Linked DNA regions of Homo sapiens. The protein of the gene in region 5 purifies or fractionates together with the protein of the main gene of each other region. This does not show direct contact. Each region holds a gene or a part of one and is shown on either strand. Other genes may lie near its edges. The genes, in order: SASS6, TXLNG, AGGF1, TRIOBP, ENTHD1, PLEKHH2 and REPS1.

Region 1 (3,500 bases), on a different chromosome or scaffold from region 5:
AGTAATATAAGTACACTAAAGTCAGAGAAGAAGGAAATTCAGTTGAGGACAGTGGTAATGATCAGGGAACTTCATCTGGTGGAAAATTATGCAAAATTTTGGAACCCATGATTTGACACTAATCTGCCTTTTCAGTTTTGTTTCCTAAGCTTATCTCTCCAATATGAAAGTCATACAAGCATTCTTGTTACCTTCTGAATATACCTGATACTCATTCTATACTATTACCCCTGCTGTTCCTTGTGCCTCAAATGCTTTTTTCTTTCATAACTTTCAGGTATGTCTTAAATCCTTTCACTATAAGGACCCTTCAAAGTTGCCTAAGTTGAAATGAATTGCCATTATTCAGTTATTAGATAGTGTGGTGTAGGTGAAAGATCTGAGTTTTCATTTGGGCTCTGTAATGTGACCTTAAACCATTATTTGGGCCTTAAGTTCTTCTTTTGTAAAATAAATAATATTTACTTATCAAGATTATTGTTAAATAAGATGATATATGTAGAATACCTGGCAGGTACTCAGTAGTGTTGGTAACCCTTCCCTCCCCTCTCATGGAGCCCTAAAATGCAATCAGAAGCAAATCTAGCAAAAAGTCATTAATCTCATCTCAATTTGAGGACAGAGACCATGGTTTTTTTTGTTTTGTTTTGTTTGTGTCATCCTATGTTCAAAAATTATTATTTTTTTTTTTTTAGAGAGAGGCTGTCACTCTGTTGCCCAGGCTAGAGTGTTGTGTCATAATCATGGCTTACTGTAATCTCAAACTCTTGGTCTTAAGCTCTCCTGCTTCAGCTTCCAGAGTACATGAAACTACAGGCATGCACCACCATGCCTGGCTCATTTTATAAATTTTTTGTAGAGATAGGATTTTGCTATGTTGCCCATGCTGGTCTTGAACTCTTGGCCTCAGGTGATCCACCCACCTCAGCCTCCCAAAGTGCTGGGATTACAGATGTGAGCCACTGTGCCAAGCCCCTGGACCATGTTTATTTCTGTTTGTATCCCTAGCACCTGGCACAATACCTGGCTTAAAGTACCTTTTATTTGTTTGATTGATAGTTTAAGAGCACAGCTACTGGGTGTCAGAGATGGCCTAGAATCCAGTTGTGCTAAAGCAAGCCTGATGTTTAGAATACTTTTTATTTAGAAGAACTCATAACTAAATCTAATGTCATTAGTATTAGACATCTATTGAGTACGACATCTATTGAGATGAGAAATAACATTTTATTGAGTTTTTATTGTTTTATATTGCTCTTATGACATTAACCATTATAAGGGAAAAAATAAGATTTGTGATTTTAGTTAGCGTATCCTCTGAAAGCTTGTATTTTTCTACAGCATATTTCTAGGGATGTTTTTTAACTAAGCATGGGGAATTCGTTTAACTTACAGGCCTTCCGTTTTTTCTTTCAACATCTAATGTATATAGGCATTTGGAATATATGCAACAATATCATTAATATGATTGGTAAATTGTCATAGTAATATAACTCTTCCAGGATTATGTAAAGAACACTTTGATAAGTGAATTCTTCTTGTACTTTTTGCAAATATATGAAGTATGACAGGACTTTTAAAACCGTAAAACACCGTCTAGGTGCAGTGGCCCACGCCTGTACTGCTATCACTTTGGGAGGCTGAGGTGGGCAGATCACTTGAGGTCAGGAGTTTGAGACCAGTCTGGCCAACATGGTGAAACCCCATCTCTACTAAAAATACGAAAATTAGCCAGGTGTGGTGTTGTGCCCCTGTAAACTCAGCTACTCAGGAGACTGAGGCAGGAGAATCGTTTGAACCTGGGAGGCGGAGGTTGCAGTGAGCCAAGATCGCACCATTGCACTCCAGACTGGGTGACAGAGCGAAACTCTGTCTCAAAAATAAATAAATAAATAAATAATTAAAATAAAAATAAACTGTAAAGCACCATAAAAAGTTAAATACCAACTGCAGTATCATACCACTATGGCATTTATACTAGAGAAAACTTCAGAAGATGAAAACCAAACATAATGATGTAGAGCTAAAAAGGTTTTCACAAACCTTCTAGTTGAATCCACTTATCTTACAAGTTCGGAAACTGAGTCCCCCCCTCCCCCACCCCACCACGAAAGCTTAATCTTGCTGTGTTGCCCAGACTGGACTTGAACCCCTGGGCTCAAGCTATCCTCCTGCCTCAGCCTCTGAAGTAGCCAGCACTACAGGTGGGAGGCACTGTGCCCAGCTCAGGAAAGCTTAAATGGAATTGGAGTAACACTCTAATCTGTTTCACATATGTTGCTTTAGATACTAGAAAAATAGCAACAGTGTATTCTCTTGTTTTGAAAATAATTCTTCCTCTCTCTGGTGTAAACCAGTGCTTCTTGTTCCTTTTCAGAAAACAGATACAAGTTATGAGGTAACATTTAACCTTATTGTACAAACGGAGATTTAGCATCCAATCATATGTTCAACAAGAAACTTAACTAAAATGACACATTTTAAACCCATATAAAATTACAAGTCAGCATTAAAAAATCTAAACAATTGAATCTAGCCTTGATCAACTGTTTCCAAGTTTTCCTATCAGTACTCAATTGCTGTTTATACTTTTTACTTGTGTAGTAGATAAGCAATAGTGTGGAAAAGGTTTAAAAGAAGTCCTTAGAAGAAAAACTTAAAATTGAACAAATTCTATTTGTTAGTTTACTTTTTTCTACCTGCACATCAAAGAAAGGCCATTGTTATTTAATTCTGGCAGAATAGTTTGAGAAGTACTTGTGCATAGGTATTTTTTACTAATTTCTCCCTTTATTTTCTGAATTATATAAGCATTTGTGCTCTATTTGATTAATGTTTATGAGCACTTTCACCTATATACCTCTGTCCAATTCTGGATTCTCTAAGATACAGCATAGGATGTGGAACACTGTGGTCTCTCCCTCTCAGGGCTTAAAGTTACTTTACTCAAGGATAAAATAGGTGTAATAAACTTGTTGATAATACTTCTGTGGTTTTATTACATAAAGAATATATTAAGCAGATTTAATTCGTGGATGTGAAAATACGTTTTTGTATGAATAAATGTAGGGAATATGTTATTTCCTTGATTTTAAACATTCAAAGCATTCTAATATCGCTTCACATATTAAGTTTTTATTTTATTTTATTTTATTTTTTGAGACAGGGTCTCTGTTGCCCAGGCTGGTGTGCAGTGGTGCAGTATTGGCTCACTGCAGCCTCTGCCTACCAGGTTCCGCATTTCTCCAACCTCAGCCTCCCAAATAGCTGGGACTACAGGTGGGTGCCACCACGCCTGGCTTGTTTTTGTATTTTTTGTAGAGATGAGGTTTTGCCGTGTTAACAGGCTGGTCTCCAACTCTTGACCTCAAGTGATCTGCCTGCTTCAGCCACCCAAAGTGCCAGGATTACAGGTGTGAGCCACTGCGACGGGCCACATACTAAGTTTTTAAAATGCAATCAGTCTCTCATTAATCAGTTTGATTACATGACATGGTAAT
Region 2 (3,500 bases), on a different chromosome or scaffold from region 5:
GTAGATATTATTTTGATTTATCAATAGATAAATATTTTTCAAACCTTGAGTTTAGGAAATATTTCTTATAGCACAAAAAGCACTGTCAGAGGAAAGATTGTACAAATTTGCTTTATTGAAATTAAGAACTTTGTTTTCGTCAAAAGATGCCCTGAAAAAAAGTGAGAAGATGGCCAAGCGCGGTGGCTCACACCTGTAATCCCAGCACTTTGGGAGCCTGAGGCAGGCGGATCACGAGGTCAGGAATTCAAGACCAGCCTGTCCAATATGGTGAAAGCCCGTCTCTACTAAAAAAATAAAAAAAAAAAAATTAGCCGGGCATGGTGTTTGCGCGCCTGTAGTTCCAGCTACTCAGGAGGTTGAGGCAGGAGAATCGCTTGAACTGGGGAGGCGGAAGTTGCAGTGAGCCAAGATCGCACCACTGCATTCCAGCCTGGGCAGCAGAGTGAGACTTCATCTCAGAAAAAAAAAAAAAGTGAGACGACATTACAAACTGGGGAGAACATATTTCCAACAAATATAACCAGCAGGCGATTTAGTATCAAGAATATCTAAAGAACACTAATGTGAAAAGGACAAATAGCCCTATGGAAAGCTGGATGAGAGACATGAAAGGGACATTTCATAGAAGTGGAAAAACAAAGATACGAAGATACCTTAACATAAAGGTCCATAAACATTCAAAGAGATGTTCCACCTGATAAGTGATTAGGGAAATGCAAATTAGGACCACAGTGAGATGCCATTTTACGTCTATTGTAGTGGCATAAATGAAGAAATCTGATCATTTTGGAGAGGATGTGGATCTACGTGGTCTCTTATATATTGCTGTTGGGAATATCAATTCACCATTGTCATGTGAAATCAAACATTTAGAAATCATTGCCCAGCAACCTCATTTCTGATGTTTGCACAGAGGAGAAATTCCTGACACGTGTATACCAGGAAACACATGAGAATGTTCATACCACTGTGAGTAATAACAAAACCTAGAGACAGCCCAGATGCCTGTTGATGCAAGAAGATGGATTAATAAAGAGTTTTGTGTGTATGTGTGGTGTGTTTTTATTTTTTATCTACTTGTTTGTTTATTTTTCAGACAGGGTCTCACTCTACCACCCAGGCTGGAGTGCAGTGGCGCAATCATGGCTCACTGTTTATTTTTTAGAGACAGGTTCTCACTTTGTGTGGTATGTTTGTGTGTGTGCTGTGTTTTTAAAAAGTGGAATATTATACAGCCTGTGGGCCAAATGCATCCGAAGTCTGTTTTTACACTGCCCACAAGAATGGTTTTAATTTTTAAGATGTTTAAAAATAAAGAACACGTGACAGAGACCATATGTGGCCTGCAGTGCCTAAAATATTTACTTGCTGGCCCTTTACAGAAAAAATCTGCTAAGTCCTGATCTGCAGCTACACGCCAACAATGTGGATGAGTCCTAGCAATGTAATCGAGTTGCGCTGTCCAAGACAGTAGCCATCAGCCACATGTGGCTTATTAAATTAGTGTAAATTAAATGAAAATTTCAATTCCTCATTTGCACTAGCTACAATAAAGTCAAAACAGCTAAAACCAAAAGGATTTTTTTTTTAGAGAAGTGCACACAGATGAAATGAAATTATATAGAAAGGAAAGCGAAGGAATAATGAACGCCGGATTCAGGATTGCGCTAACCCTGGGTCAGGAAAGGCAGGAGCTCTGCACCCTGGTGAAATTACAGCTAGTATGTGCCGGACCTGCAGCCTCTTAAACTGGGCAGCCGTGTACAGTTCGCAGTAATTTTGCTTTACAAAATTATGCAAAAACAATGATTTTTTTTCCTGCAAGAATTTCAGTAAAGGTGTTTTTAATATCTGTAAATGTGGCTGTAAGGATGCGTGATATGTTTTGGTAGGCCACAAGATGTCACTCTTGCTCTTCAAATTGTGACTCAGCATCATTTTCTTTTTCAGTAAAAGCTTTATTGAAAGGTCAGTAAGGCTGCCATCTTATCTGTTCATGTTGATTTAACCTTGAAACAGACTGATTTGTTCCATACCCAAAACTGCAGCAGTTCTTCTTACAAAGAACCCTGAGTGCTGTTTACTGAGTTTTAGATTCTGATGACTGTTTCAGTATAGTAGCCTGTGGGTGTAAAACTTGATGGTATCGACTCCTAAAGCATCATTTAAAAAAACAAAAACCTGCTGGGCACGGTGGCTCATGCCTGTATTCTCAGCACTTTGGGAGGCCGAGGTGGGCGGATCACCTGAGGTCGGGAGTTCGAGACCAGCCTGACCAACATGGAGAAACCCCATTTCTACTAAAAATACAAAATTAGCTGGGTGTGGTGGCGCATGCCTATAATCCCAGCTACTTGGGAGGCTGAGGCAGGAGAATCGCTTTAACTCTTGTTGCCTAGGCTGGAGTGCAATGGCGCGATCCATTGCACTCCAGCCTGGGCAACTAGAGTGAAACTCCATCTCAAAAAAGCAAAACCCGGCCGGGCATGGTGGCTTATGCTTGTAATCCCAGCACTTTGGGAGGCCAAGGCAGGTGGATCAATTGAGGTCATGAGTTTGAGACCAGTCTGGCCAACATAGGGAAACCCTGTCTCTACTAAAAATACAAAAATTAGCTGGGCGTGGTGGCAGGTGCCTGTAGTCCTAGCTACTCGGGAGGCTGAGGCAGGAGAATCGCTTGAACCCGGGAGGTGGAGGCTGCAGTGAGCCGAGATTGTGCAACAGAATAATAGTCCATCTAAAAAAATGATAATGAAAATAAAAAAATCAAAACCCCAAAGCACAATAAATTGATTGTTAAAATATTTGGATTTCAGCGGGTTTTTTGCCAGGTAGGAAATGATCTAGACAGACATTCACCCAGCAAACAGCAATTCGGGACATGCCTGGCTTTAGCACTGAGTCACTCCTGGCCTTCAACATTGGAGTAGGTTTCAGCTAGAACTGGAGCTGGTTTATTTTCCAAAGGGTTAAGGCTGGAATACTTGGGCAGTGTTCCCAGTGGGCCCAGGAAAATTCAGGGGCAGGAGGTATCCAGTTGAAGGGCATCATCCTTCAAAAAGCACAAGATCATAGCTGGAAGTTGAGGAGCCCATGTTGCTTGTGAGTTGTTGGGTTGAAAGCAGGGAGAAGATCTGTGATCAGTGTCTGAAGTCAGAAAGCTGGCAAAATTCAGGACCCCAGGGGATAGCAGGCCAATACGGAAGTCAAGAAAGCCAGAGATTCAGGCTGCTGGGTTCAAATCCCACCTCACCCCTTACTGATTATCTGTACTAATTAAAGAATGTTAGGCAACTTATTAATGTCTCCAGGCTTATACATTTCTTCTATAAAACCTGGATAATAAAGGGTTGTGAAAATTAAATCTGTCTAAAGGATTTTTTTTTAAAAAAGAAAAAGATGGATTATTTTCTGCTGCCCTAAATTTGCTTACTTTTTTGTCACAACTGGAAGAGGAGAGAAGAGAAGGGTGGCAGTGTAGCATGGCATGAAACAAT
Region 3 (3,500 bases), on a different chromosome or scaffold from region 5:
ATTTTTTGTATTTTTAGTAGAGGCAGGGTTTCGCCATGTCGGCCAGGCTGGTCTCGAATTACATCTCAGACCTTTTAATACTGTATGATACATACTCAGTGCCTGATATCAAATATTAAACCCTAAGCCGAAGTAAGAAAGCAAAAAGCTGCATTTAAAATTATATTTGACTCAAAACTATTTGACAGAAGAATTCTAAAATAGCTTATGATGCTACACTTCTAAGTTTTTAAAATAAGGTTAAGGTTAAAATAAATTTTATTGTGATTATTATAGACAATGTTTTGGAGAAGTCTTTATGTATAAAAATAACAGACAAAAATACTGGAGCTTTTGTTAATAAAAGCAGATAGTTAACTACATCGTAAATATTTTAGAACCTAAACCAGTATTTTTTTCATAGAATTAATAGAGAAGTGAGGTTAATTTTAGGCTTGGAATGAGAATTTTAAAAATTATATCAAATACTTTATGAATTCATTTTAGGCCACATAAGGAGACTTCTTTCTTGAATTCTTAGTAGTATGTTTATTATTAGCCAGTGTTTTATATCCTGTGCCTTTTAACTATTTCACTTTAAACATTCAGTCTGTTGGCTAGGCATGGTGGCTCACTCCTTGTAATCCTAGCACTTTAGGAGGCTGAGGCAGGTGGATTGCTTGAGTCGAGTGCAAGACCAGCCTGGGCAACACAGTGAGACTCTTTCTATAAAAAATTTTAAAAGTCAGCTGGATGTAGTGGCTCACCCTCTAGTCCCAGCTACTCAGGAGGCTGATGTGGGAGCGTCGCTTGAGCTGGGAAGATGGAGGCTGCAGTGAGCCATGATTGCACCACTGCCCTCCAGACTAGGTGACAGAGTGAGACCCTGTCTCAAAAAACAAGCAAACAAAAATCAATCTGTTAGCAATGAGAACTAGGGAATTAATATGGGATCTAAAATATAATGGACCACTGACTAGGATAGAACCAGAAAATAAAGTTCTTGATTTATAATACAGTGTTATAGCTGTTGAAGTCTAATAATTATATTTCGTTGAAGATTTGATGACAATGATAGAACTCAGTCACATACCTCAAACTCAAGAATCTAGTAATGTAATCTGGTTTTCTGAGGAATTATAGAATGTGGTACACAAAAGTGGAGTTGACGTTCATCATTCCTGTTACTGGAACTATTGTTATCTAGAGAACATAAGATAATACTAAATATCTCAATTAACATAAGAGGTGTCATTAGTTTGTCAATCTGCATATGGTAAACTGTAAGTCCTTTGTAAAGAGAGGGTTTTCTTTCATGGGGGTTGCTAATTGACAATGCTAATTAATAACCAGGAAATTAATGTTTAAACACTTATCCAAAGGGAGTAGTTATTTAGTTTCTAGGAAAACAATAGTTTCAAGTAGACATTAGTCTTTGTCAATCTTCTGCCTGTCTTTCTGTATCTTTTCTCTTGACATCAGTTGTTTTGTAAATGGTTAGTACGTTCTGCAGGTTATATTTCTGAGTAAATTAGGAACTTCATTGTGTTGCCATTTTCATTGTGCTAATATTTTAATAAATTTTTTTTATATTTTGAAAATGTCTATATTTTGGACTGATAAACAGATTTAAAAGGTTTGAATTATAAAAGTTCCATTATTACTAGAAATAAAGATTGGAAAGCCTCCACTCAGTTTCTTAGTTAAGAGAAAGATGGTGAGAAATCTAAATATTTTTTGTAAGAGATCTGCAAAATGCATGGATTAAAGACAATAAATTGCAAGTGTCAATAGTTAGAAAAATAAATTATTCTTTTTCAGGAAGTTTTAGTTGCTCAATCTCAGTACATTAAAGATGTTTCCGGGTCTGGTCTGCATGGATTTAGGATGTAAATAAAATATAGACTGTTCAATTAAATTTGGTTTTAGAGTACTGGCCAGTATATCATAAATATAGGTGATTACCTAATTTTATCTTTCTGGTTTTTAAATCTGTAATTTGCCAAATTCATTTATGCATGGTTGCTTGTAAGTCTTATTTACTATAGAACTGATTAATTAGTGGAGACAGTTTATTGATTGCATTTTATAGAATGTTATTTTTTGGTATGCATGAACTTTATTTTCAAAATTTTCTTCTCTAATTTTAAGTTATGAACATCAAAAGACAAATCTTTGTTTTATGACATTGAGAGGAGGGTTTAGGGGTTTATACTGCCACACCATTATTGTGCAGTCATTAAGAATCAGGAGTCTAGAATTGCGCTCATATGGTCAGCTTTTTCTTATGCTTGCTTTAGTTTTCATGCCTTTAAAAGTATTATCAATTTTTTTAATGTATTAAGTGGAACCATATGAAATTGCTGTTTCTTATAAGTTAAAAGTGGTCAAGTATTGACAATTTTATATGATTAAATTTAATATTTAGATTTACTTGTTTCTCACACTAGGAAAATTAGATCAGTTATTGAATGGTAAAGTATTTTGGAAGATTAAAGCATTTTTTATTGTTATCTTTAATTCATTGTCTTCTGAAAATACTATAGTTGTTCAAAGAAATATTTACCACATTTGAATGTATTTGGCATTTTCGTTAAGTTTATTTTATCTTACATGAATAGAATTTATTTTTTTCTTGACTTTCAAAGGAAAATCAACTCTATTATGATCCTTCCACTGGAATTTATTACTATTGTGATGTGGAAAGTGGTCGTTATCAGTTTCATTCTCGAGTAGATTTGCAACCTTATCCGACTTCTAGCACAAAACAAAGTAAAGATAAAAAATTGAAGAAGAAAAGAAAAGATCCAGATTCTTCTGCAACAAATGAGGAAAAGGTAATGTCTTTACAATTTTAAAAATTGACATAATGGTGATAACATGATAATTAAGACAAAATTTTTTATGAAACTGACAATCATTCAATAACTCTGCATTTCAAACATACCCATTAAGATAACCTAGGAAAGTTTAGATGGAGCAAACATGGACTTTTTCATAAACTCTGTCACTAGAAATAGAAAGCATTTCTTAAAATTTGAAGGAGATAGATTAAGGTCAGATAAAATATCTCGTATATAGTTTGGAAGAAGAATTCAGATCCTCAGTTGATAAGTTGATGTCAATGCACAGTTCATAATAAAAGATAAACACAGTTTATAGGTAGACATAGATACAGGTTCAACTTTCTTAGTTATGTGGAGCAATTTTTTACTTACTAGGACAATTTTTTTTTTTTTTTTTGAGACAGAGTTTCACTCTTGTTGCCCGGGCTGGAATGCAATGGCGTGATCTCAGCTCACCGCAACCTCCGCCTCCCAGGTTCAAGTGATTCTCCTGCCTCAGCCTCCCGAGTAGCTGGGATTACAGGCATGCACCAACACGTCTGGCTAATTTTTTTGTAATCTTAGTAGAGACGGGGCTTCTCCATGTGGTCAGGCTCGTCTCGAACTCCTGACCTCAGCTGATCCTCCTGCCTCTGCCTCCCAAAGTGCTGAGATTACAGGCATGAGCCACCGCAC
Region 4 (3,500 bases), 2.1 Mb from region 5:
TTTTTTTTTTTTTTGAGACAGAGTTTTGCTGTTGTTGCCCAGGCTACAGTGCAGTGGCGCGATCTCGGCTCACCACAACCTCCGCCTCCCAGGTTAAAACGATTCTCCTGGCCGGGCGCGGTGGCTCACGCCTGTAATCCCAGCACTTTGGGAGGCCGAGGCGGGCAGATCACGAGGTAGGAGATCAAGACCATCCTGGCTAACACAGTGAAACCCCGTCTCTACTAAAAATACAAAAAAATTACCCGGGCGTGGTGGCGGGCGCGGTGGCGGGTGCCTGTAGTCCCAGCCACTCCGGAGGCTGAGGCAGGAGAATGGCATGAACCTGGGAGGCGGAGCGTGCAGTGAGCCGAGATCGTGCCACTGCACTCCAGCCTGGGTGACAGAGCGAGACTCCGTCTCAAAAAAAAAAAAAATATTAAAAAAAAAAAGCGATTATCCTGCCTCAGCCTCCCAAGTAGCTAGGATTACAGGCATGTGCCACCTCGCCTGGATAATTTTGTATTTTTAGTAGAGACAGGGTTTTTCCATGTTGGTCAGGCTCTTCTCGAACTCCCAACCTCAGGTGATCCGCCCACTTCGGCCTCTCAAAGTGTTGGGATTACAGGCGTGAGCCACCGTGCCCAGCCGATATTTTATTTCTCTTTTTTTTTTTGAGACGGAGTCACTCTGTCACCCAGGCTGGAGTGCAGTGGCACCATCTCGGCTCACTGCAAGCTCCGCCTCTCGGGTTCATGCCATTCTCCTGCCTCAGCCTCCCGAGTAGCTGGGACTACAGGCACCCGCCACCACACCTGGCTAATTTTTTGTATTTTTAGTAGAGACGGGGTTTCACCATGTTAGCCGGGATGGTCCCAATCTCCTGACCTCGTGATCCGCCCGCCTCTGCCTCCCAAAGTGCTGGGATTACAGGCGTGAGCCACCGCTCCTGGCCCCAATATTTTATTTCTTCAACAAACACTTAGGTGAGGCTCACTCTGTACCTAGAAATTCTGGAAGCCCTTTTTGTCTGTTAACTCATCTAATCTTCCTGACAGCTCCATACATTAGCTACTATGACTGTCCCCATTTACAGATGAGGAAACTGAGGCACAGGAAGGTCAAGTACCTTACCAAAGCTTTTATAGCTGGACTGGGATTTGAACCAGGCAGTCTGGCTCCAGTCTGAGCTTTTAAGCCTCCCCAGTCCTGGCTGAACTTGTTTCCTCCTTGGTCAAGTCAGCAGCACCTAGCCCTCGGGGTTGGGGAGGGGTTAATGAGGTGCCTTGTGGAGTGGTTCAGCCTGCTCAGGTTTATGTAGGGCTTCTTTTCATCCATCTCACTCCCGAGGTGAGAGCCTGGTGCTGCATGAGGGCTGCAGCAGACTTGACCGTGAGATATCCACTCACACGGGCTGGACAGGGGTGAGAGTAAGGGAAGGCAAAGCAGGGGAATCGGAGAGGGCTTCCTGGAGGAGTCCGCCTCCAGGATGTAGAGGGTTTTTGTGCAGATAGGGGCTGCATTCTAGGGGCCTGAGGCAGAGAGAACCCGGGCTGCAGGGCACTATGGGCCAGGGTAGCTCTGGCTTCTGGCCCTGGGTCAGTCCAGCACCTATATCCCCAGGTGCTGCTTCGCGTAAAAGAAAACGAACTCCAGTACCTAAAGAAGGAGGTGCAGTGCCTCCGGGACGAGCTCCAGATGATGCAGAAGGTAGGTCCTTCCGCTGGGCTGGGGGCCGTCGGGGACTCTGGAGCCATCTGGATGCCATCCTGTGAGCACCTGCTCTGTGCCAAGCCCTCCACTCGCTTCATCCTTCCTCAGGCTCTCCTGTGCTTCTCCCATGTAGGTGTCATCATCCCCATTCACTGACAGGGAAACTGAGACTAAGAAAGGGGAAGTGACTTCCCCAAGGCTGTACTTGGCTTCTGTTTATTTAGCATTATTTAATTTATTGATTATTATTGAGCACCTACTATATCCTGGGCACTGTGCTAGGTGCTGGGAAGACAGATGTGAACAAAATAACCCCAAATCTCTGCTGTGGGGAGCTTGCACTCCAGTGAGAATAACCACGTTGCTAGGAGTTGGGTGGGTCAGGGTTCAGCCCAGGTCTGAGTCTGCAGCCCGCCTGGCCCACCCTTGGCTGCTATGTCACTGCCTGGTGCGCTCTGTCAGTTTGGGGCAGGAAGTGGACATGTTGGTGGCTCTGTAAGTGCACGTGAGCCAGACCGTGTTTACCGCACTTGAAGAACAGGTGGCGTGAACTCACAGGAAGGGCCCGAGCACCCAGCCAGGCTGACCTGGTTCTCATCCCAGCCACTCACTGCCCTGCGGTCTTGGTCAAAATCTTCTCCCCCGAAACAGGATGAGGATGACAATGACGCCTGTGTCCCTGGGTGGTACCAGGGAGGTGGGAGGGGTAAGCCCAGAACCCACGGCCATCTTGGGGAGCCACCTGGAGGGATGAAGCGAGGTATCTGCGGGGAGGTCTGGCTGCTGGTGCTGCCCATGTGCCCGGTTGGCAGGGCTGGAGGGAGAGACTTCATGCCCTCATACCTGCCTCCTGCCCCCCAGGACAAGCGCTTCACCTCGGGAAAGTACCAGGACGTCTATGTGGAGCTGAGCCACATCAAGACACGGTCTGAGCGGGAGATCGAGCAGCTGAAGGAGCACCTGCGTCTTGCCATGGCCGCCCTCCAGGAGAAGGAGTCGATGCGCAACAGCCTGGCTGAGTAGAGGTGGATGCCGAGGCGTGTGCCCTGCAGGGTGGGCAGGGGCTGAGGCTCTCCCACACCCGGGACTCCCTGGACCACCCCAGCCAGGCCACTTCCTTCTTCTGGCCTCCAATTCCCGTTCTGTAAAAAGGACAATGAAACCAGCAACACGGGGTTGTTGCAGAGATCCCATCAGACCCGGGCCACAGGCTGCTTCATCAGCTTAAGCCTGTTCCTCCAGAGCTGGGCGGCACAGTGCAGAGCCACAGCCTACTCAGTGCACCCCCCTTCTTGGGGCTGGAGGCAAATGCAGCGTGCACATCCCTGACCCCCACAGTGAATCTCCACTGAGCTTCACACACACACATCGCACGCTGAGGCCGGGCTTCTATCCCAGTTAGTCTTAACACTCCTTCTTGACTTAGCAGGGCTCAAAGTGGTTGGTTGGTTGGTTGGTTGGTTGGTTGGTTGGTTGGTTGGTTGGTTTTGGTTGCTTTGAGAAAGGTCTTACTCTGACACCCAGGCTGGAGTGCAGTGGTGCAATCACGGCTCACTGCAGCCTCAACCTCCTAGGCTCAAGGGATCCTCCCACCTCAGCCTTCTGAGTAGCTGGGACCACAGGCCCTCACCACCATGCCCAGATAATTTTTGCACTTTTTGTATAGGTGGGGTTTCGCCGTGATTTCCCAGGCTGGTCTCGAACTCCTGGGCTCAAGCAATACACCTGCCTCAGCCTCCCAAAATTCTGAGATTACAGGTGTGAGCCGCTGCACCTGGCCAAAGTGTTCTTATTTTTGCTTTTTCAAC
Region 5 (3,955 bases):
AGATGTAAACTCTTCTGTGAAACCTGCCCTTAAATACTCAGTGGCAGAATTAGATGATCTCTTCTCTCTTACTATGCCATACATATCTTGTTACAATCTTCTCTGACGGTGCCTGTCACCTCCACTAGCCTGTAAACGTATCCAGCAGAGGGCTGCTTTTTATCTCCGAGTCCTTACTGTCTGGCACAAAGTGGGTGCTCACGGAAAATCAGTTGAATACATCAACAATTACCCGTCAGTGGCACCTGAAGCCATCAGTCACTGGAGCTACCCCATCATTGTCCATCACACACACTGCTCTTCATAGACTACTATTACATTCTCAGTCCTTTGAGGTGGCAATCACGTGCTGGTGGTATTTCTAGTCAGTTGAAATGACAGTAGTAACACACTTTTAAAAATGTATTCATGTGCCATGCTGGTGCGCTGCACCCACTAACTCGTCATCTAGCATTAGGTATATCTCCCAATGCTATCCCTCCCCCCTCCCCCCACCCCACAACAGTCCCCAGAGTGTGATGTTCCCCTTCCTGTGTCCATGTGTTCTCATTGTTCAATTCCCACCTATGAGTGAGAATATGCGGTGTTTGGTTTTTTGTTCTTGCGATAGTTTACTGAGAATGATGATTTCCAATTTCATCCATGTCCTTAAAACTTAAATAATAATAAATAAAAAAAAAGAGATATTATGCTAGAAGTCTGAGTATTTTACTGATTTTCCATTTTAAGAATAAATTATCATGGCAAATTTTAAGTTACATACATTATTTTATTGTCTACTTTTTAAAAACATTATCAGCTTACCTTGGCATTTTTTTTCTTTTTTTAATGTCCGTTTTTACGTTGTGAACATTTAGTAAATTAATTTATACTCATTTTTATTTAATTAAGAAAGCAGCTAAGAATAAATGCTAGTGTCTGATTAAACTATTTCCCAGATCTCAAAAAAAAAAAAAAATTTATTCTTTGAAAGGAGGATTAGGGCAGTGTCACAGCCCGGCAGCCTGTGAAACGAAGACACTTACCTTCATTCCCCTTGGTACCCTCCAGCTCAGGTATCTGCAACCATCTTGCTTGACGCCCTGACAGGAACTGCACCAGGCCAGAAAGTGAGGAAGCGGAAGTGGGGACCGGCCTGGGCCCTTGAGCCTGGCTGGAGTAGGTGGAATATCCTGGGGAGAGGAAGTTTGGTCGTTGGGCAGCGGCCGACTTTCCTCTCAGGTAACAGCCTCTGCTTGGGAGTGGTGGTGGGGCTCAAGGCGGGTCTGGAAACATCGGTTGCCTTCCCTCCTCCCGTTTCTTGCCGGCACCGTCGGAGTCCAGGTGGGGGCGGGAGGGCGGCGAGGCCATTACCATCCGCAGGAGGTGAAATCCCTGTGGCGTGACGTGACGCCATCACGTCCCTCTCTCCTTCTAGAGGCTTTCCTGAGGTCCAGCCTTCCCCTCCACTGCCGGTTCTCCTAGGGTAATTGCTGGTCTGATTCTCTGTGTGGCCGAACGCCCAGCACCTGGCTCATCTGGTACACAGTCGTCATCTGAAGTGGGGGTTGTATGAATGAAGACGAGGATGCCGAGGAAAGGCCCTGCCCACAGAAAGTTGATTCTTGCTCAGCCTCCACCCGCCATTTTCAAAATTCTTTCCAAAGCATCTCGTTTCTTCCTCCCCCACGGCCCTGTCTGGCGATTATTCTTTGTGTTGCGGATGAGGGAACTGAGACTTAGAGAAGTTGTTAAGTCTTAGTTAGGAAATGGCAAAGCAGGACCTCAAATCATGGCTTTGAATCCTAATTAAAGGAGAGAGATGAGGCATGTGAAGGCCCAGGTGTGAGCACATTGTGAGCGTTCAATGAAGAGTAGCTGTTTACTCCAGGGTGTGAGGACTGTGTCTTGTGCACCTGTTTCTCCATTTCCTAGAATGGAGCCTGCCACATGGTAAGCTCTGGAAGATTATTAGTTGAATAAATTAATGAACACACACTTAGGGCTGGAAAAGATTAGATTCTCTGCCTCTGACAGTATTCTTTTCATCAAAACAGTAACACCTCCTAATGGCATGGTAGTCTCTATAACCATTTTCCCGTAGCATTCTTGGCCAGAGCTCATTTCCTTACGAGTCAAACTCATGTCTATAGGCAGAACCTGTACAAACACAAGAGCTGTTCTTTTCTCATAGTTCCACCTTAAATGCATCTTTTCAGAGATAGCTCTGGACACTCAGCCTCTTAGATGCTATTGTCATTATTGTCCCAAGTCTTTGGATAAAGTCAGTTCAGCTCCTCTGTTCCTTATTCTCAATCCTGAAATCCAAAAACTTTTGGAAATCAACTTTTCCTCCAACTCATTTGGTGGTAAAACTTGGCCTGAGGCCATTTGTAGTCTTTATTCCAAATATTTACATGTTTTTATTGCAGACATGTTAATGTGTTTAATTGTTCAGAGCAGCTCCACACCTTACTGTGGGTATCATGTAATATATGGTATAGACATGGCACTACTCTTGAAAATTCCACCCCTACCACCGCACCCAAAAGAGAATTTCCACAAATCATCTGGCCTCAAAGGATTGGGATAAAAGATCGTGGACCAATAGTTTAATGCCAGCTGATAAATCATTTCCTGTTAGAATTCAGATGAAATGGGGGGAAGGAAACAGCATTGTGAAAGTGGGCAGATCTAAAAATAACACTAAAAGACCTTTTCTACGTAATCATTTGTTTTGCTGGGAATTATTTAGGAGAGAAAGCTCCTTAACTGAATGGTAAGTTTTAATGTGAGGTTCATGTTTTATATTTCTCCACAAAGCTATACAAATGGTAGGTACTCAAGAAATATCTGTTGATGATTTGAAAATATTTGCTCAAAACTATAGAATTTTACTTGACAATTATGAGAGCTAGATTTTATTTATTTATTTTTTTAATATCATGCTTTATAGGAGTTTGTGACCATCTGGGCAACCAATAAGAACTCGTGTCTAAAAAAAAAATTTTTTTTGAGGCCAAGCACGGTGGCTCACACCTGTAATCCCAGCACTCTGGGAGGCCGAGGCAGGCGGATCACTTGAGGTCAGGAGTTCAAGACCACCCTGGTCAATATGGTGAAACCCCGTCTCTACTAAAAATACAAAAAATTAGCTGGGCTTGGTGGCTCATGGCTGCAGTCCCAGCTACTTGGGAGGCTGAGGCAGGAGAATTGCTTGAACCTGGGAGGTGGAGGTTGCAATGAGCCAAGATCGTGCCACTTCACTCCAGCCTGGGTGACAGAGCAAGACCCTATCTCAAAAAAAAAAATAAAATTTTTTTTTTAATTAGTTAGGCTTGGTGGTATGCACCTGTAGTCCCAGCTACTTGGGAGGCTGAGGCAGGGGGATTGCTTGAGCCCAGGAGTTTGCAAGCAGCCTGGGCTACATAGTGAGGCTTTATCTCAAAAAAAAAAAAAAAGTGATTATAATTATAAAGCTATAGAATCAGTGCAGGTTTATCCCAAGGCAGAATCATTCAATCATTGTGTTATTTGCACAACACATGTTTCTTGAGTATCTACTGTTGCTAATTAGCTGTTAGGGATAGGATTACAGTGGTAAATAAGACCGTCAAGGTCCCTGCCCCCAAGGAGCTTCCAGTTTGGTGGTGAAGAAAGGCACTGAGCAAATGACAAATAGGTAAGTACAGATTGTTACAAGTGCAATGAAGGAAATTAACCAGGTTCTGGGGAGACCTAAGTAGTTAGTGAGGTCGGTGAAGACCTCTCAGATTTGTGACATGAAATACCTAACTTCTTCCCTCTATTTCTAAATATTATAGTGAGTTGGGTAGCCAGACAACCAAGATTCAAATGTGGAAATTTACCCTCTTGGGCACTAATTTTGTCTCATGTCAATTTTTGTCACATCACTGTAGTTACAATCTCACAGTTATTTGATGCTGTATGTAAACAGCATTTTCATGTAGTCAGG
Region 6 (3,500 bases), on a different chromosome or scaffold from region 5:
CTTATTAAAAATAGCCTGATAAAATATTACCAAACATTTAAAACTACTTTTATGTATCTCAGAGCCAGAAACCATCATGCTTCCAAAATCAAGTAACACTTCAAAATTTCAAAACCAATTCCCTTGCATCTTGTCCTCCCCCTTACAGTGCTTCTCCCTGCAATTAATATCCTCCCAAAGGAAAGTTAATATGGAAAACACTAATTCCAGATTTACTTCATATGGCTAACTCCAAATTGCATGTATATGTGCCTTCTCTTACACCAAATAAAAATTATGCAAACTTGTCAGGATCACAACAACTTACCCTTAAATACGCCAAAGGACCTCTGGCTTGAAAGACTTAACCTGGACCTGGCCAAATTGAGAGTGATGATAAGGAATCATTATAGTAAAAATCCAAACCGTGAATTGTAGCAATTGAATCAAACTGTAATACTTCCTTAAATTTCAGAATATGGTAAAATTATGAGCTGATAGATTCAAACAATCTTATCTGTTGGGCACAGCTAAAATAATAACACTCTGTGTTTGTGTGGTGTTGTTATACTGTCTGTTCTACTAGAAATAGCAGTATTTCATTTGTCCCTCACTACATACCCACAAGGAATAATGGTTTGTTGTCAACATGCCCCCTTTTCTGGATTGGCTAAACTGAGACATAGAAAGGTTAAGTAGCACAGTTGGGCTCCATCCAGCCTTAGTCTCCTATTTCCCATTAAGTTCTTTCCATAAGTTCTCACCAGTTCTGGAATTTGTCTTAGAATTTAAAATTTGTACATGGATCTCACTAGACAGTGATTATAATGTGTACATTGGGTAATTTAACAAATTATCCTGAATATTAATTGTGTTGTAGCATTTGAATGTTTTACTTTTTAATTTTTTGTTTATTTATTTAATTTTTTTAGAATATGGCAGAGCTTTCTGAGCCAGAGGGACCAGTAGATTGGAAGGAACGATGTGTAGCTCTGGAGTCCCAACTCATGAAATTTAGAGTTCAAGCAAGCAAGATACGAGAGCTTTTAGCAGAGAAGGTAAGCTTTCTCCCTAAGCTTTGTTATTAAATGTCAGCTATTTAGGGTCTGCTTCATTTATATTAAATAATCTCAGTACTTTGGGGGTTTGATTTAATTTTTGTCAAGTATTTGAAGCTATATTTGGCATATTCTTTTGCCAGTGTTAGGGTAGATTGGACTTTAAGACAAAAAATATTTATTTGCAAATGCTAGTGGCATATGTGAGAACCGTGTATGTTTGGTGAATGTAGAGTTCATTCATTCCAGAGAGAAAGCTATAATTTATTTGATTTTATTAGAGGAGTATGACAGCTTTGATCTACTAAATGTTTACAAAAATCATATTGAAGGGATTATAGAAAAAAATTATCTATTGATAGTAAAATGTGTTTATACCGTATTTGAAAGATGTATCTACTTAGGAATCTGTGTTGACTAAGTATATATTGCTAAATTCTTGCCTGGGCTAGAATTGAGTTTAAAATAATTATATGCTTTTCTAATCATGTAATTAGAATTTCATTTATATTACAGGAATTTTTTGCAAGTATGTGTATAAAACCAATAGATTTGTTCATTTATTCATTCAACAAATATTCTTTGAGGGCTAATTATGTGTTAGACACCGTTCTTAATACTACAGTTACATATATGAACAAGACAACCCATATTCCTATTTCCAGGGAACTTGAATTCTAGACCTCTGCTGTCCCAATGCAGTAGCCACTAGCCACATGTGGATGTTCAACACTTCAGATAAGGCTAGTTCAAATTGAGGTGTGTTGTAAAAGTAGAATAAATACAGGATTTCAAAGTTTTAGCATGAAAGAATGTAAAATATCTCAGCAATAATTTTTATATTGATTATATGTTGAAATGATATTGTGGATATTGGGTTAAATAGGCAATATTAAAATTAATTTTACCCACTTCTTTTTACTTTTTAAACGTGTGTATTAGAAAATTTAAAATCACACCTGTGGCTCATATTATATTTCTATTGGAAAGCACTGTCTGGATGAATGGATGAATGATATTAGTGGTTATTCAGAACTGATCAGAAGAACTTACAGGTGGTTTCTGAAACACTAATCTGCATAATCCTTTTGGGATGGAGATTGGTACATGTATCATATCTCCAAAAAAGGTATTAAATCTTCCTTTCATTGCTAGCCAAGAATCTCTTAGTACAGAATTATTATAATAACATTCAGCAAAACATCATTAAGTCTAAACTTGCATATATATCATCTCAAACTTTTGGGCTTTAACATCTTTTAGGTAGAAGACTAAAGTTATCCTTACTCACTTTGGGTCAAGGATGACTCAGTAATCAATCAGTCAATGAATCCTGAACTTCAATGTGCTTTATTTATTGATATTACATCAAAATTATTAAAATTATAGCTTATAAAATCCCAGTTTGAGTATCTCCAAGTTGGAGAAGTTTTTTCTAACGTAACTTAGTGACTCATCTTTTATCTTTTGCTCTTCTGTCAATGAAAATCATTTTCCATGTTGTACTATGATTTATCCGGTATTTTCCAACAACCCCAACTGCCCCATACAGTGATTTTTGTCAGGATCCACCAATTATGTCCTTATTACTAAACCTCATGGACACTTCCCATTTGTTGCCTAAGCCTCTCAGCAGTTGACACTGTTGACCACAGGATCCCTCTCAAAATTTTCCTGCTTTTCTTGACTTCTGTACTCGTTTGGCTTCCTTATGGACTAAATAGAAGATATTAGCTTATTTGGGTTGCAATTAGTTGACCTTTAAATTCTAAATTTTATGGCAACATTTGTTCTGTTCTTTAGAAAGCATGTTGCAGCAAGTTTCTCAATGAGTGCCCATTTTAAAAATAATAAAAGTGTTGTTATCTCCAGTAATTTCTCTATAAGTAAAATAGCTTTTTTATTATTAATTTTTATGCTATCAGATTAAATGTTTTCTTTGTCAGTGAATGAACATTGATAGGAATGTTATTTCGGAATTGCTGTTCTAGTTGTGGTTTCTTTTTCTTTAATTTTCTTCTTCTTTTTTTTTTTTTGGTCTGTATTTCGTATCTGTGACATAAATTCTTTGGCAGATCTAAGAGATGGAATTATTCTGATGTGTTTTACACATTGGAAAGTAGATAAATGTGCCAAGTTACTCATGGCTTCCCAATAAATATATTCAACACAAAAATATGAATAAGGATTTTCACAATATTTTCTGTTATATTCCATTATGAATATTTTTCTCAGGTTTAAAAATTTCTTTTGGTCTCCATCCATGTTTTAATGAAAATATCTAATATTTATTGATTTATTATGTATAGGATAAGCTCTGTATAGGTATGGTATGATTTATTTAATTCTTATAACAACTTGTGAAGTAATACATTTTATTGTGCTCATTTTATAGATTAGGAAACTGTTGCTTACTATGCCAAGAAATCTTCTAAGTGCTTTAAATATATAAACTTTTAAATC
Region 7 (3,500 bases), on a different chromosome or scaffold from region 5:
TTAATTCAGATGGACTTTAAATTAGGGTGGAGTGAGGGGAATGGAATTATGAGGGCTTCCAGGCAGAGAAAAGTGATCAGAAGTGGAAAGTGTAGGAGCCTTTTCAAGGACTAGTGTTTTCGGGATAACAGAATATAAAATTAGAAAGAGGCCATATTGGGAAAGACTCTGAAGAAGGGCAGCAGATAACGATATTTCAGCAAGCAATGGAGACCCATTGAAAAGTTTTTGACTTTGAGTGGCAGAAAGGGTAAGGAATGACACTCTTTCAGTGGTCTGGATTGGGTGCTAGGTCATGGACATCCAACCAGGGTGACAGCAGTAGAATAGAAAGGGAGAGACTGGATATGTTATTGAAGGACTGCTGGGTAGCCACTATATGAGGTGCTTTGTGGAATAATGTTTAATTGAGGCCAGATTATCAAGGTTGGATGGAGAGCTTTGAACTAATTGTGTAGGTAACAGGGAGTGGTAGATTTAAGAGAAATGACTCATAAAGCAGTGCTTTAGGAGTCGTTTGTCAGGGCCACAGGAATTAGAGGAATAAAACTGTAGACTTAACTTGGGGGCTGATTTTGTATGGCAGATACGAAGTGAGAAACTGGGCCAGTGGTACTCAAACATGGGAATGAAGGTGACAATGGGGAAGAGGCATTTGGCAGTGTCTAGAGACATTTTGATTGTCATAACTAGAGGGGAGAGAGCAGTTCTACTGGCATCTAGTGGGTAGAGGCCAGAAATGTTGCTAAACATCCTGCAGTGCACAGGACAGCCTCCACAAGCATTATGTGCCCAAGATGTCAATAGTGCTGAGACTGAGAAACCCTAACCTGGACTATAGTGGTGGGAGTGGGACAAAAAATCAGATATGGGCCGGGCACAGTGGCTCATGCCTGTAATCCCAGCACTTTGGGAGGCTGAGGCAGGTGGATCACCTGAGGTCAGGAGTTGGAGACCAACCTGGCCAACATGGTGAAACCCTTTCTGTACTAAAAATACAAAATTAGCCGCATGTGGTGGCGCATGCCTGTAATCCCAGCTACTCCAGAGGCTGAGGCAGGAGAATCACTTAGAACCTGGGAGGAGGAGGAGGTTGCAGTGAGCCAAGATCGCGCCACTGCACTCCAGCCTAGATGACAGAGCAAGACGCTGTCTCAAAAAAAAAAAAAAAAAAAGAGAGAGAGAGAGATGGTAGAGATTATGAAGGTAAACGTGATAGGCCTGGGTTATTTGGCAGTGTTTTGGTGAGAATACAGTGGGGCAAGGATTATTCTTTGGACACCACTCACAGTTAGAAAAGGGGCAGGAAGAGGGCTTACTTTTTAAAAGAGACAATGATGAGTTTGGTTTCAGACATTCTTAGATGGCAATTCAGATCTCTTGGAGACAGTGGGAAGTGGGTGGAGATTTGTCCACCCCAACTGCTGGTTCTTACAGCAGTTCAGGTTCAGAGGTTCGGGATTTCTTCCTCTGTTTTGCTCACCTAAGTGTTTAGGGACGGGAGACAGTGTCACATAGACTGGGCATGCACATACATATCAGGACCTTGGTTGGTACAGTAGTTTTCGGTGTTTGTTAGTAAAAGTTAGGAGGAGACTGAGTCATCTGGGGGCATGAGTGTAGAGAACAAATAACACCGAGTCCAGAACCAAACGAGGAAGGAGCTGGCATTTATCGAGTGCCTATTATGTTCCTTTAACCAGGCAAATCATTTTCATGGAAGAACTCATTTGATTCTTGCAACAACCTTGTGAAGTGGGTGTTATTCTTGTTTATTTTTATTTTTATTTTTATTTTTTGAGACAGTCTCTCGCTCTGTTGCCCAGGCTGGAGTGCAGTGGTGCAATCTCGGCTCACTGCAACCTCCACCTCCCAGGCTCAAGCGATTCTTCTGCCTCAGCCTCCTGGGTAGCTGGGACTACAGGCATGCGCCACCACCACACTCGGCTAATTTTTGTATTTTTAGTAGAGTCGGGGTTTCACCATATTGGCCAGGCTGGTCTTGAACTCCTGACCTTGTGATCTGCCCACTTCAGCCTCCCAGAGTGCTGGGATTACAGGCTTATTCTTGTTCACTAAGAACTTGATAGCAGATAAGTTAAATAATTTATTTGTGAATATTCGTATCTCTCCCTTACTATTATTCACGTCCCAGCTCTTACCTTCTCTGGTCATGTGGTTTGGGAGCAGGGTGAGGAATAAAATTCAGTTGGTCTGATTTTGACTTCCCCATAGTTCTTATGAACAGTAGGGATTTTAGAATATCTGATTTTGTGTTACGTATCAACTTACTCCTTTGCGTAGTAAGTAGTTTAATGTATGATGATGTCTTGAAACACAGCCACTTCAGAGAAAGAGGGAGATTCTTGTAGTTGGTGTTCAGGGCACACACAAATACAATTTTTCTTTATTACCACTGTCAGATGTTTTAAGGTGTGTTCATTACAGTTGCTTTTGAATAGCAGAGGAAAATCTATTCTGAGTTTAAGAGTTTGTTTTTGAAGACAGAATGTCAATAGACAAAGTGAAGGAGTGCATGCTTTGTAAAATTATGCTCCATGCCACATAATAGCAAGATGAGGGGGAGAAAAATCTGGCTCATAGGATTTAATCATGAGGAATTTTGCTGTCTGCCGAGCAAGAAAATATTCAGTGTTGTGGCTTAAAAGTCAGCTTTTCCCAAAGTAGTTTATTTTGTTTTTTAAAGATTAGGAAAGATATACTATTTACCACACTAATCAGAATGTTTTCTTAGCTTTTACCAAAAGCTTCTGTTTTGGGAAATGTCTTAAAACTTCATACAGACTTTGAATGCATAATAGATTGATAAAGGGTTCTAGTACTAACTGTTCTTTCATTGAGGTTTGTAAGCAATGTACCCTGTTAATGAAGCTGAAAATCTTTAGATCATTTGTGTAGAGCAATATCTTGTTAGAATATTTGCATAACACATAAATTTAATGGGGAAAAGCAATAACAGTGAAACAAACCATTTTGTTTTTGTCTTGAAACTTGTTTAAATCAATTACAAGATCTGGCATTAGTGATAAGTTTAAAAATAGGAAAGCAGAGCTCATTTCTGTGTTGAAAGTTATAAACTTAATAAGTCTCAGGTTTGTTATTCTGGAGTAGTGGTTTTTAGTTCTGAATCACTAAAATAATTGTAATAAACTACAGAAATAATCTTGCCATAATCACTTACCTATACACAGTTGAAAAAGATACTGTTTGTGAAAGAAGTCACAGTCAATGTGTTTCTGTAGTGTCCTATTTATTTACTTTTAAAATTTCTGTCTTCTTGAGTTTCTTGTGCTAGTTTCAGTCATTTTGTTTGTTTGTTTGTTTGTTTTAATCAATAGCCCAGAGTTAGAGTTTTAGTATATTGGGAATTCGTGCCAAACATTTGATGGAGCGACACAAGAGCATGAGAAGCTGGTATAAAGAGCACTAACTGTGGGAGGCAAGTTCCAGTTCTGGCATCAGCTAACTTTGTAACCCTG

What was found.
Region 1: the proteins of ENTHD1 (region 5) and SASS6 purify together in Homo sapiens (affinity purification with mass spectrometry; one large-scale study listed by BioGRID and IntAct). This does not show direct contact.
Region 2: the proteins of ENTHD1 (region 5) and TXLNG purify together in Homo sapiens (affinity purification with mass spectrometry; one large-scale study listed by BioGRID and IntAct). This does not show direct contact.
Region 3: the proteins of ENTHD1 (region 5) and AGGF1 purify together in Homo sapiens (affinity purification with mass spectrometry; one large-scale study listed by BioGRID and IntAct). This does not show direct contact.
Region 4: the proteins of ENTHD1 (region 5) and TRIOBP purify together in Homo sapiens (affinity purification with mass spectrometry; one large-scale study listed by BioGRID and IntAct). This does not show direct contact.
Region 6: the proteins of ENTHD1 (region 5) and PLEKHH2 purify together in Homo sapiens (affinity purification with mass spectrometry; one large-scale study listed by BioGRID and IntAct). This does not show direct contact.
Region 7: the proteins of ENTHD1 (region 5) and REPS1 purify together in Homo sapiens (affinity purification with mass spectrometry; one large-scale study listed by BioGRID and IntAct). This does not show direct contact.

The regions. Positions count from the first base shown.
Region 1 is NC_000001.11:100,126,431-100,129,930, reverse strand, and holds part of SASS6 (spindle assembly abnormal protein 6 homolog), read left to right. Parts: intron 1-3,167; exon of another isoform or gene 3,168-3,279; intron 3,280-3,500.
Region 2 is NC_000023.11:16,824,466-16,827,965, forward strand, and holds part of TXLNG (gamma-taxilin), read left to right. Parts: intron 1-3,500. UniProt on the Homo sapiens protein: May be involved in intracellular vesicle traffic. Inhibits ATF4-mediated transcription, possibly by dimerizing with ATF4 to form inactive dimers that cannot bind DNA. May be involved in regulating bone mass density through an ATF4-dependent pathway.
Region 3 is NC_000005.10:77,036,904-77,040,403, forward strand, and holds part of AGGF1 (angiogenic factor with G patch and FHA domains 1), read left to right. Parts: intron 1-2,627; coding exon 2,628-2,816; intron 2,817-3,500. UniProt on the Homo sapiens protein: Promotes angiogenesis and the proliferation of endothelial cells. Able to bind to endothelial cells and promote cell proliferation, suggesting that it may act in an autocrine fashion.
Region 4 is NC_000022.11:37,770,048-37,773,547, forward strand, and holds part of TRIOBP (TRIO and F-actin-binding protein), read left to right. Parts: intron 1-1,602; coding exon 1,603-1,689; intron 1,690-2,553; coding exon 2,554-2,715; 3' UTR 2,716-2,717; intron 2,718-3,500.
Region 5 is NC_000022.11:39,890,961-39,894,915, reverse strand, and holds the start of ENTHD1 (ENTH domain-containing protein 1), read left to right. Parts: upstream 1-1,155; 5' UTR 1,156-1,221; exon of another isoform or gene 1,222-1,932; intron 1,933-3,955.
Region 6 is NC_000002.12:43,643,760-43,647,259, forward strand, and holds part of PLEKHH2 (pleckstrin homology domain-containing family H member 2), read left to right. Parts: intron 1-911; 5' UTR 912-914; coding exon 915-1,037; intron 1,038-3,500. UniProt on the Homo sapiens protein: In the kidney glomerulus may play a role in linking podocyte foot processes to the glomerular basement membrane. May be involved in stabilization of F-actin by attenuating its depolymerization. Can recruit TGFB1I1 from focal adhesions to podocyte lamellipodia.
Region 7 is NC_000006.12:138,981,754-138,985,253, reverse strand, and holds part of REPS1 (ralBP1-associated Eps domain-containing protein 1), read left to right. Parts: intron 1-3,500. UniProt on the Homo sapiens protein: May coordinate the cellular actions of activated EGF receptors and Ral-GTPases.